Regions from separate parts of the Homo sapiens genome. Here all the other regions are linked to region 2. Evidence: fine-mapped expression QTL. A gene starts in region 2. Each other region holds a variant in brackets. All regions are shown on one strand. Distances are between the middles of the regions.

What was found.
Region 1: its variant is fine-mapped to the expression of CTXND1 in lung (TOPMed, PIP 0.94).
Region 3: its variant is fine-mapped to the expression of CTXND1 in atrial appendage (GTEx, PIP above 0.99).
Region 4: its variant is fine-mapped to the expression of CTXND1 in sigmoid colon (GTEx, PIP 0.98).

Annotation. Positions count from the first base shown.
Region 1 is chr15:80,221,720-80,224,408 of GRCh38, forward strand. The region is part of intron 1 of CTXND1 (cortexin domain containing 1); the gene reads right to left. Among named protein-coding and RNA genes, the nearest start is that of CTXND1, 29 kb to the right of the region's middle. The variant A/C (reference allele first, on the strand shown) is at 1,329.
Region 2 is chr15:80,251,082-80,253,770 of GRCh38, forward strand. It overlaps CTXND1 (cortexin domain containing 1), which reads right to left and starts at 1,132. Exons shown (of 3, transcript NM_001352888.2): 1 at 926-1,132.
Region 3 is chr15:80,383,506-80,386,194 of GRCh38, forward strand. The region is part of intron 3 of ARNT2-DT (ARNT2 divergent transcript); the gene reads right to left. Among named protein-coding and RNA genes, the nearest start is that of ARNT2-DT, 19 kb to the right of the region's middle. The variant A/G (reference allele first, on the strand shown) is at 1,078.
Region 4 is chr15:80,154,452-80,157,140 of GRCh38, forward strand. All of the region lies in intron 1 of FAH (fumarylacetoacetate hydrolase), which reads left to right. Among named protein-coding and RNA genes, the nearest start is that of FAH, 2.8 kb to the left of the region's middle. The variant C/T (reference allele first, on the strand shown) is at 1,118.

The DNA of each region.
Region 1 (2,689 bases), 29 kb before region 2:
CTTAATAGAAAAATAAATATTTTTTAGGGCTTTATATATTTCTTTGAGTATAACTTTGGCTGCATGCCATAGATTTTGGAAACCATTGCTCTAACTGCTATTCATTTCTATGTAGTCTCAAGTTTATATTTTGATTTAAATGTTGTTTGGAAATATGTTTCTCAAAAATTATTAAATAGCTAGAAAATTTTATTTGGGGTTTCTCTTAATTGTTAATTTCTAGTTTCATTGCACCGTGGTCAGAGAATATAGCTTGTATAGGTGTTGCTTTTTGCATTATATGTGTGTATACATAGTCAGTTTCTTGAAATGATTCCATGGACATTTATAAAAACGTAATATTCTGTTTTGGGGGCATATAGGATTTTAGATATATTCATTAAATCAAGATTATTCATTATGCTATTAGAATCCTCTATTTCTTCATGGCTATTTGATCCATCCAATTTTAAGGTTTATATTCTTTTTGTAAGGGAAAATTTGAATTTAAAATTTTATGGAAATTTAAAACATACACAAAGTAGAAATGGCGATATAATAAATCCACATGTACCAATCATCCAGATGATCAATTATGAATATTATACCACTCTTATTTCATCAACATACCCCCCCTTTTTGGAGTATTTTGAAGCAAATCCCAGGTAACATATCATTTTGCCAGTAAAATACTTCAATTTAAAGCTTTAACAATTAATGACTCTTTCTTAAATAGTCATAACTATAATACTTCTATCATAACCAACAAATGTAACCCTAACTCTCTAATATACAATATCCAATTCATGGTCAATTTTCCCCAATTATCTCAAAATTGTTTTCTTAAAATAGGTTTGTTTGAATTAAGATATGAATGAGTTTTACACATTATCTCTTTTAATTGTTATTAACAGTTCCTCCTCTCTTTTTAATGCAATTAATAGGAACGTTTTTGAAATGGGTATAGTTGTAATTCTGCCAAGTTTCTTGTTTTTCTTACAGTTTTGCCTTATCATTATTTTACTTTTATTGTTGTTCTATAATGCTTTTTATTTTTTACTGCATCTTTTTTAAAAAATTATTTCTTTGTTTCACTAAATCTGCCATAGTATTTCCTTGAGTGTGTTTTTCTTTTACAATGGATTCACATATGACAATGTTTCTTAGATATATTTGTTATAAATAAACAAATAAACACAAATACATACAGACACACATTTGTATCCTGTCCCCTAGAAGAAACCACTATTCTGATATCACCACAGATTAGTTTTACCTGTCCTGAAACTTCATATAAATGGAATCATACAGAATGTTTTCTTTTGTGTCTGGCTTCTTTCACTTAACAT[A/C]AGGTCTATGAGATTTATTCATATTTTTATTTATTTACTTATTTTTTTGAGACAGAGTTTTGCTCTTGTTGCCCAGGCTGGAATCCAATGGCGCGCTCTCGGCCCACCTCAACCTCCGCCTCCTAGGTTCAAGCGATTCTCCAGATTATAGGCATGTGCCACCATGTCCGGCTAATTTTGTATTTTTTTAGTAGGGATGAGGTTTCTCCATGTTGGTTAGGCTGGTCTTGAACTCCCGACCTCAGGTGATCTGCCCGCTTCAGCCTCCCAAAGTGTTGGGATTATAGGCCTGAGCCACCGCGCCCGGCCGAGATTTATTCATATTTTTGCATGTATTAGTAGTTCTTTTTTATTGCTGTGAAGTATTCCATTGTATGAAATGCACGATATCACGATTTATTCACTCTACAACTAGTGGACATTTGGGTTGTTTCTAGTTTGGGACTATGATGAATAGTGCTGCTAAGAAATTCTTGTCTGTCTTTGTTTATCTTTTGGTGGATATATGTATCCATTTCTATTAGTTGTATATCTAGAAGGTTGCTGGACTGTATAGGTGTATGTTTAATTGTTGCAATTATGGGCAGAGTTTTCCATGGTGGATGGACAAATTGACACTCCTATCAACAGTCCCAGTCGCTCTGCATCCTCATCAGCACTTGGTAGGTTGGGCCTTGTAAATTCCAGCCATTCTGGGGGTAGATTGTGGTTTTTATTTGCATTTCTCTGATGTGAAATTAGAACCTTTTAATATGCTTTTTGGCCAAAAAAAAAAAAAATACCCAAAACAAAAAAGCAACCATATGTGAGGGTTGATGTGCTAATTTAAAAATATGTCCACAAATACTTTGAAGAGGTTGAGTCCATGCGTCCCCCCATTGAGCCTGGGTAGGCCTTTGTGACTGCCTCAGTGGATAAAATGAGGTAGAAATGATGCTGTGTGACTTGGCTGAGTTAGAAAAGGCCACATCATTTTTGCTGTTTTCTCTTGGGACACTCACTTTGGGAACCTTGAGCCGCCATGTCAAGAATCAGCTGCTCTGACGATCACTAAGTGGAGAGACTAAAGAGGAAAGAGGGATGCCTGAGGAACCCCAGCAGTTCCAGCCCCAGCTGTGTAAGTCTCCCCAGCTCAGGTGCCAGATATGCAAGTGAAGAAGACTTTCAGAAGACCCCAGCCCAGCTCCAACCACCGACCGACTGCAATCAGCTGAGAGATCCTGAGTGAGAACAGCCTAGCTGAGCCCACTTAACTCCCAGATTTGTGAACAATAAAATAATTGCTATTGTTATAAGCCAAGATTTGGGGTCTTTAGCTACACAGCAACAGGCAACCAGAACAGTCTAGTTATGGAATTATC
Region 2 (2,689 bases):
GAACTTCTCCCCACGAAGGCAGCACAGGCTTCGATGGAGCTTTTTTCCTGGGTCCCGAGCCACATCCTGACAGGCCACTGTGGCCCTATTGCACGCCTGGTGAGGCGGTGCATCAGCTTGGATTTTCTAACAGGTTCTTTTCCAGAACTTTTGCTGCGGGCACGGAGACTCTTACCAAATTCGGCTCCATAATACATTCCCCAAAACATTAGAACCCAGGATAGGTCTACGCCTCCACTGATACGGAAAAATATATGAAAGCGTGGATTAGGGTTTTTGCCACAGATGAGAACAAAATCCAACGGAGACTTGACATTTCTTTAGAAAGGCTGCCACCAGCAGAACTTTCCCCAGAAGTTACATCCGTGCTGACCTTCATCAGTTACATTGAGAAAAAATCTGTTCTATGTGACTGTCAGCCACAGGAGAGGGAATTTTAGGCACTGAACGTGACGAGAAGGACTTTCTAACTTTGATTCAGTTTCAACTCACACTCCCCAAACCCCTCAATGGCAGAGAGGCCGAGGATCCCCGAATGGGGAGGTGAGGCTCAGAACAGCGAGGGTGCCTGAGCACAGCACCACACTCTCCCGGTTTCTGAGCCCCGAGCCCCGCAGTGGAACTCGGGCCGCTGCGACGCGGCTCCCGTGCGGCTCCCACCGAGGCTGCTGTCCCCTGCCGCGCGGGTCCGGCCCTCCCCGCCGACCGAGGCGCGCCCCGGGCGCAGTGCCGCCGAGGAGGGGATCGGTCCCAGTGTCCACGCGGGTCTCCTCGCCGCCGCGGCAGGGCTCGGCCCGACTTCAGCGAGCAGATCCTCCGCCTGCGGCCGGTGACCCGCGCGACGCCCCGGCGGCACCGACAATGCTGTGCTCCAGCCCCGCAGGCGCCGCGGCAGCGGGTCCCGGGATGCTCCCGCGGTCCTTACCTGGCGAGGCCCGTCCCGTGCGCTCCCGGGGTCCTGGCTGGGCCGGCGCCGAGCCCAGGGCGACCGCGGATCGCCGGCTACGGCGTTTCCCGGTGACGGGGGCGCGGGCTCGCGGGGCGCGGGGGGCGCTGCCCAGGCCCGGCTCGGCAGGAGTCAGAGCCCCCAGCGGCGCGGGCGAGCCCGGGCCAGCAGCCGAGAGGGGGCTCTGAGCGGAGCCGCGGCCGTCCTGGCATTTTAAAGGCGAGGCAGCTGGACGCTGTTCAAGCGGAAACGCAGAGAGAAACTTCAGCCCCCGGGGCAGAGCGTTGGCAGCGAGGGGAGGGGGCCCAAGAGCTCCTTGCAGGCGCACAAACCAATCTGGGCTATTCCAATATGCTCTTCAAATGCATTTTCTTCAGATATTCTCTTTACAGTTAAAAAAAAAAATCCCCCCAAACAACAACGACAGCAAAACCCTCTCAAAGCCTTCTCCTGCAGTATGCTTCATAGCAAGCCAAACATTTCCATTAAAGTTAGGGGCAAGAGCAGGGGGCCGGTTTGGGACGTCTGGTCAATGCAATCAGACAAGAGAAGGAAATAAGGTGTAAAAATACTGAAGTTGTGCCTTTGTTAAAAAAATATATATTCTATATGTGTGTATATATGTATATATATTATATATATGTGAAGCGGGAGAAAAATGATTACTGTTTGCAGCGGATGTGATTGTGTAGTTGGAAAGTGCAAACTGAAGATTGTTGAAATAATAGCCTTTCCAAGGAATTGGCAGGCTACAAAATAAACATACCAAATTAACGGTGTTCTTGTGCACTTACTAACCATTTTGAAAGGCAAATAAAAAATCCCATTCTCACTAATAGCCAAGCCACAGTAGCTAGGAAAAATAAACTTATCATGAAATGTGAAAGAAAAAAAAAAAAAAACAACCTTCTCTACTAGGGGACTAGAGAAGACTTGAATCTATTATGACGCACGCCTTATTCTTGGGCAAGAAGAAGTAAACACTGTAATCCCATCATGTCCTCTTTATCTGTCAATTCAATGCCATCTCTATCAAATTCCAAGTAGAATTTTCTTTTTAACTTGACATGATTCTCAGTGTCATGTGGAAGAATAAAGAGACCAGGCAACAAAATGTTGATAAGGAAGAGCATAAGGGAAGCTAGCCCTGCTGGATATTAAAATGAAGAAATGCTTGCATGCATAAATGAATAAATGAATAAATAAAATACATTGTTTGAGTGCTTACTATTTAAGGAAGTGCTCTACGTGGATTAATGCATTTTATTCATCACAACAAGCTATGATGCAGGTACTGATACTGCTGCCATTTTCAGATAGGAAATGGAAGCCCAAAAGTGTAAGTATCACACTTACACTTTTGTGTAAGGTCACACAAGTAGGAGTAGGGGATCAGGGGTTTGATGCAGGCGTTCTGCCTGCAAAAACTATGCATCTATGTGCTTCAACCCCATCACACGACACCGCCTCTGTCACAAGGCAAAAACCAGCACATTACTGGTCCGGACATGACTGTTCAATGGAATGGGATGAAGAGCCCAGAATTAGAAGTACATGAGAAACTGTGGTGTTTAAGGTGGTACTTCATGTTAATCAGATAGATAGTTTTTATTTTATTTTATTTTATGTTTGAGACGGAGTTTTGCTCTTGTTGCCCAGGCTGGAGTGCAATGGCACGATCTCGGCTCTCTGCAACCCTCTGCCTCCTGTGTTCAAGCAATTCTCCTTCCTCAGCCTCCCAAG
Region 3 (2,689 bases), 130 kb after region 2:
TACTCATAAATAGCTCATATTTCTAGAGGAGAAACAGTTGGGCAAAATATAATTACAATGCCCTAGCTACCTGACCCTAGCTAGGAAGGCTTTCATTTAAACTATATCATTTAGTTTTTATAAATAATCCAGTCAGCTATGACTTACTCCATTATATAGAGAAGAAAACAAAAGCTCAGGGAGGTGAAGTGACTTTTCTAAGGACACACAGTCTTTAAATATCAGAGCCAGGCTTGAATTCAGGTTTTCCAAAGCTAATTCCAGCTCCGTGTTCTCTGTATAACTGAGGCCTAAAAGATTGAACAGTTCCAGTTTTGCCCAGTGTTTTCCCCATGGTTTGTAGCAATTATAAAAATAGATATCACACAAGACCATGCTGAACCTTTCCTTTTTGTCTAAGTACTTCCTAAAGGAACAGTCCTGCCATGTGTCATTAAAGCAGGAGTTCTCAATGGGCACAGTGGTTCACGCCTGTAATCCCAGCACTTTGAGAGGCTGAGGCAGGCAGATCACGAGGTCCAGAGATCAAGACCATGCTGGCCAAGATGGTGAAACCCCGTCTCTACTAAAAATACAAAAATTAGCTGGGCGTGTTGGTGCTTGCCTATAATCCCAGCTACTCAGGGGACTGAGGCAGGAGAATCGCTTGAACCTGGGAGGTGGCGGTTGCAGTGAGCCGAGATTGAGCCACTGCAGTTCAGCCTGGAGACAGAGTGACACTCCATCAAAAAAAAAAAAAAAGGAGTTATCTTTTTGAAAAATGCAAAGAAGAAATGAGAATTTGTTTTCAAAATTAAATTCAGAGTGATAAATTCCTCTCCTGGGACCCAATTCCATGAGCCTGTGGCCTGGCATTCTTTCCTTGGACTTATATGTAAAGACAGGGATACCTTCTACCTGTATTTTTCTGCGGTTGGCATGATTTCGGAAGTAACTATTAACAACACAGTGGTACGCTTCAACAGTAGAATTGTATACTTATGCAGATTTATGAGAGATTTTTGTTCTGTTAAAATTTCTTTTCTGAGGCAGTGTAATGGGAACACGTGCCAGATGGACTCAAGATGGTCTTATCTG[A/G]TATCTATTAATATTACTGTTGCAACCCACAGGAAAGGCACTGGGTGGAGTTGGCTGACCCTGTCATGTGAAGCATGAGGCTTGCTATTGCCTACTTTAGCAGAGTGATGTGCAAGGGATGCCTGACACCAACTCACCCCAGCCTTGGTGAAGCGTTTACATTACTAGTCTATTTATAATAAAAAGCTCTGGCTGTGCCACTGAGGTCCTTTAGGAAAATAGCAACCCAAAGAGTTTATGCAAAATAATATCCTTATTTGCTTATTGGGCTAAAATGTGTCAAGGACAAGACTTTGGAAATAGGATGCACATGAATCCCAGCCCAAACCTTTTACCAGCTGTGTGACCCTGGGCAGACTTTGATTTCCATAAATGCAAGAGGGCAATAATAAAATATACTTTTCCAGGTAATCAGGAGTGTTAGCAATAATGTTCATAAATAACATAAAGTTCCAGGAGAAGAGTGGATGCTCAATAAGTGGTTACTCTTGTTTTCAAGATTTCCCCCCATGAAGTTACCTAAGAAGCGTAACATTTCCTCCAATGAATAATATGTGTGATGCATCGATCACAATGGATATATGTTGTTTAGAGTCAACCTTTTTTTGTTTTGGAACCTATCTTAAACTATGCTGGCAAACTTAAAAATTCAGCTAACATTTGGCCTAGAAAAAGGTAGAAAGGTTATGTTATGCCCCATTAAAAAAAATGCCAGTATGGTATTTTTCTCATTTTTACATGATGGTCTCTTATTCTGCATCAGTGATAATGAAGACTTTTTAATTATCAATAATTTTTCATTAAATATTGCCAAGCTGTTGCTAATTTTCTTTGGTGAACACTAGCAAAATATTTGCCTGGATGACAGTACTTGAGAATTATCCAAGTCCAAGAACACAGAATAATGGGAAACTAGGCCCTTCCTTTCTAATTTCCAGGGCTGTTTCTAGAACAGCACTTTCTTCTACAGCAGGCTCTCCAAGGACACCAATTTGGGCAAAATCAGGCACATCATTGCAAACCTGAGTGTGGAGACTTGCTCACTTGGCATTTACTGGAAAAAAAAAAAAAAAGAACTTCCACGTGCCACGGGCATTTAAATGCTTGCTAGACCTTGCGGTTGCAGAGGGGAGTCAACAGGACTCCTGCCTCCAAGGATTCTCAGTGGGCTGAGGTCTGCAGGCATGCATTGAATCCCACAGCGCAGAAAAAACTCCAACAAGTTATGAGCTTGTGTGATGCGGGAAGAAAGAACAGTTCTTGTAATGACACAAAGATAGAGGAGGCCACCTATCTGACAACTCAAATCTAATTTCATTATAAAAGTCACTTATTTCATAATGAAGTCAAAACTTCTGTTGCGTATGTATTTGTCTCAACAAACTCTTTGGTTGTAAGTAAAGGGCAACAATTCAGGGGACTTAAGGACTAAAATTCGGAATGGACTCAAGAATGCTTTGTGAAGCCTTGAGGCTTAAGTGACCGGACCTCTCAAGGGAGGTAGTCACAGTCAGAAAGCCCTCAGCTATCTGAGCAGTCCTCATACCTCACCTCTGTTTCTCTGTGTCTGTTTCATTCTTGTCTTTCTTCCACCTGTCCTACTCTGCCTTTC
Region 4 (2,689 bases), 97 kb before region 2:
AGCCACTACAGATGTCTGGAAGAGAGAGCCCCATTCCGCTGTCCTCTGATACAGTGCTGGGGGTGGAGAGTTGGCCCTTTGGCCTTCCAGCTGAACAAGCCTCTTCTGAAGCTTTCTCTGCAGGCATTGGACATTCCAACCGTGATGGCTGCCTTGCCAGGCAAGACTAGTTGCCAAGGCAAAACCTCCCTTCCCCCATGTCAGCAGTCAGCCTTTCCTAATTTGAGTGGAATAACAATGAATCCTGCCATCACTTTATTCATTTTTTTTTATTCAGCGAATGCTTATGAACCCCAACTCTGGTCCAGATTTTGCCTGGGCTCCGAGTTGGCATCAAAGACACAGGAGACGCCTTCCTTCCATTTCTGGTTGATGGACTAGTAAGGTGTACAGGGGTGCTCTCTGTGAAGGTAGGGGTGGTGGCCTCTGAGAACGGGGTTGTAGTAGTGTGGAGCTGGTTTTGCCGGGTGCCTTGTTAAAGTCCCCGTGGTCTGGCTGTGCTGCTGCCTCCTGGCCTCTGCTTTCTCCAGCCACATTGGCTGCCTTTGAGTCTCTGAGATGTGCTAAGAGCAGCTTCCTGCCTTCAGGCCTTAGCACATGTTGTTCCTTCTGCCTGGAATACTCGTCCTTCTGCTCTCTATATGCTTGGCCCCTTCTCACTCTTTGGGACTCAGCTTAAATGTCACCTCCTAAGCACCCTCTCTGAATGAGCTCCCCGCTGCGGCCCAGCCTTGGTTATCTCTCACCACACCCTGTGTTTCCTTTTGCTTCTGGAGAGAAGGAACCACGTCACTGTTCCCAGGGCCTCAGCAGCCTTTGTGTAATGCTGGTACTGAGAAGATGCTCTCTAAATCTTTGTGGCATGAATAGCGTCTACCCTGTGTCTGTTCTTGTGGTGAGAGATTTACAGATATTAATTAAATTCTCACAATAAACCTACTGTGAAGTTATTGTCCCCATTCTACAGATGAGGAAACTGAGGTCCAGAGAGGCAAAGCATCATGCTCCAGATCTCACAGCCAGTAAGAGGCAGATATGGGGTTGATCCCCACATCTGTCAGCCTCCCAATCTGTAAGGTCCAGCCCTACGGGGCTTAGCGGGTTTTCTCCCTGTGTG[C/T]GGAAACGAGAGATTGTAAGAAATAAAGACACAAGACAAAGAGATAAAGAGAGAACAGCTGGGCCCGGGGCACTGCTACCACTGAGACACAGAGACCGGTAGTGGCCCCGAATGGCTGGGCACACTGATATTTATTGCACACAAGACAAGGGGGGCAGGGTAGGGAGGGTGAGTCATCCAAGTGATTGATAAGGTCAAGCAAGTCATGTGATCATGGGACGGGGGCTCTTCCCTCTAAGGTAGCCGAAGCAGAGAGGGAAGGCAGCATAAGTCAGCATTTTCTTCTATGCACTTATAAGAAAGATCAAAGACTTTAAGACTTTCGCTATTTCTTCTACCGCTATCTACTACAAACTTCAAAGAGGAACCAGGAGTACAGGAGGAACATGAAAGTGGACAAGGAGCGTGACCATTGAAGCACAGCACCACAGGGAGGGGTTTAGGCCTCCAGATGACTGCGGGCAGGCCTGGATAATATCCAGCCTCCTACAGGAAGCTGGTGGAGCAGAGTGTTCCCTGACTCCTCCAAGGAAAGGGAGACTCCCTTTTGCGGTCTGCTAAGTAATGGGTGCCTTCCCAGGCACTGGCGTTACCGCTTGACCAAGGAGCGCTCAAGCGGCCCTTATGCGGGTGTGACAGGGCTCACCTCTTGCCTTCTAGGTCACTTCTCAGAATGTCCCTTCAGTACCTGACCCTATACCCACCGGTTATTCCTAGGTTATATTGTACTACAATAAAGAGTAATATTAAAAACTAATGATTAATAATGTTTATACTAATAATCGATAATTGTCCATGATCATCTGTATATCTAATTTGTATTACAACTGTATAGCAGTATAGCTACAGTTTATGCCTTCAGTCTCTTGCCTCGGCACCTGGGTAATCCTTCGCCCACACCAATCCCATGCTTCCCCCTCTATGTCAGGCTGGGAGTTGGGTAATGCTTTCCTTTGGACAACTTTATATCAGATATGACCAACTATTTTAAAACAAAGGCAATGCACATTCATTCTCTTGAAGTTAGACAAATGCGGTCTCCCTCCTTAGTTTGTTTCCCTCAAGTTGCAGATGGGAAACTGAGGCCCAGAGACTTGTCCAAGGTGATAAGATGGTGAATGAGGGAGCAGACTTGGAGCCCAGGAATCCTGGATCTGACCTGTGAGCCCCCTCTAGTTTTGTGCTGAAGAAAATAACTCCCAAGGTTGAAAGTAGAGGGACTCACTCTCTCAGACTTTTTCTGGGTCCTCAGGTCATAGTTTGAAGCACAAGTTTGAAGCTTCTAGGCTTTGTTTGCATTTGAGGCAGCAGGCAGCTGCACTTGTGACCCCATTTTGGAAGTTGCTTACTGGTGGTGACTCCTTCTTGCCTTCAGCTGGGGTGTGGGGACCAGGGTCAGAGATGTGGTCCAAGGGTCTGCCCTGCACATTCCCTGAATGGAAAGCCACTTGGATTCAGGTGGTTCAGCTCTTTGCCTAAAGCAGATTTGCCATTTTCAGGAGGGGAAGACTGAGGCCCAGGGAGTTGGCAGTGGGGCTGAGAATGAGTAACTAAGCTCTCCAGGCAGCCTCT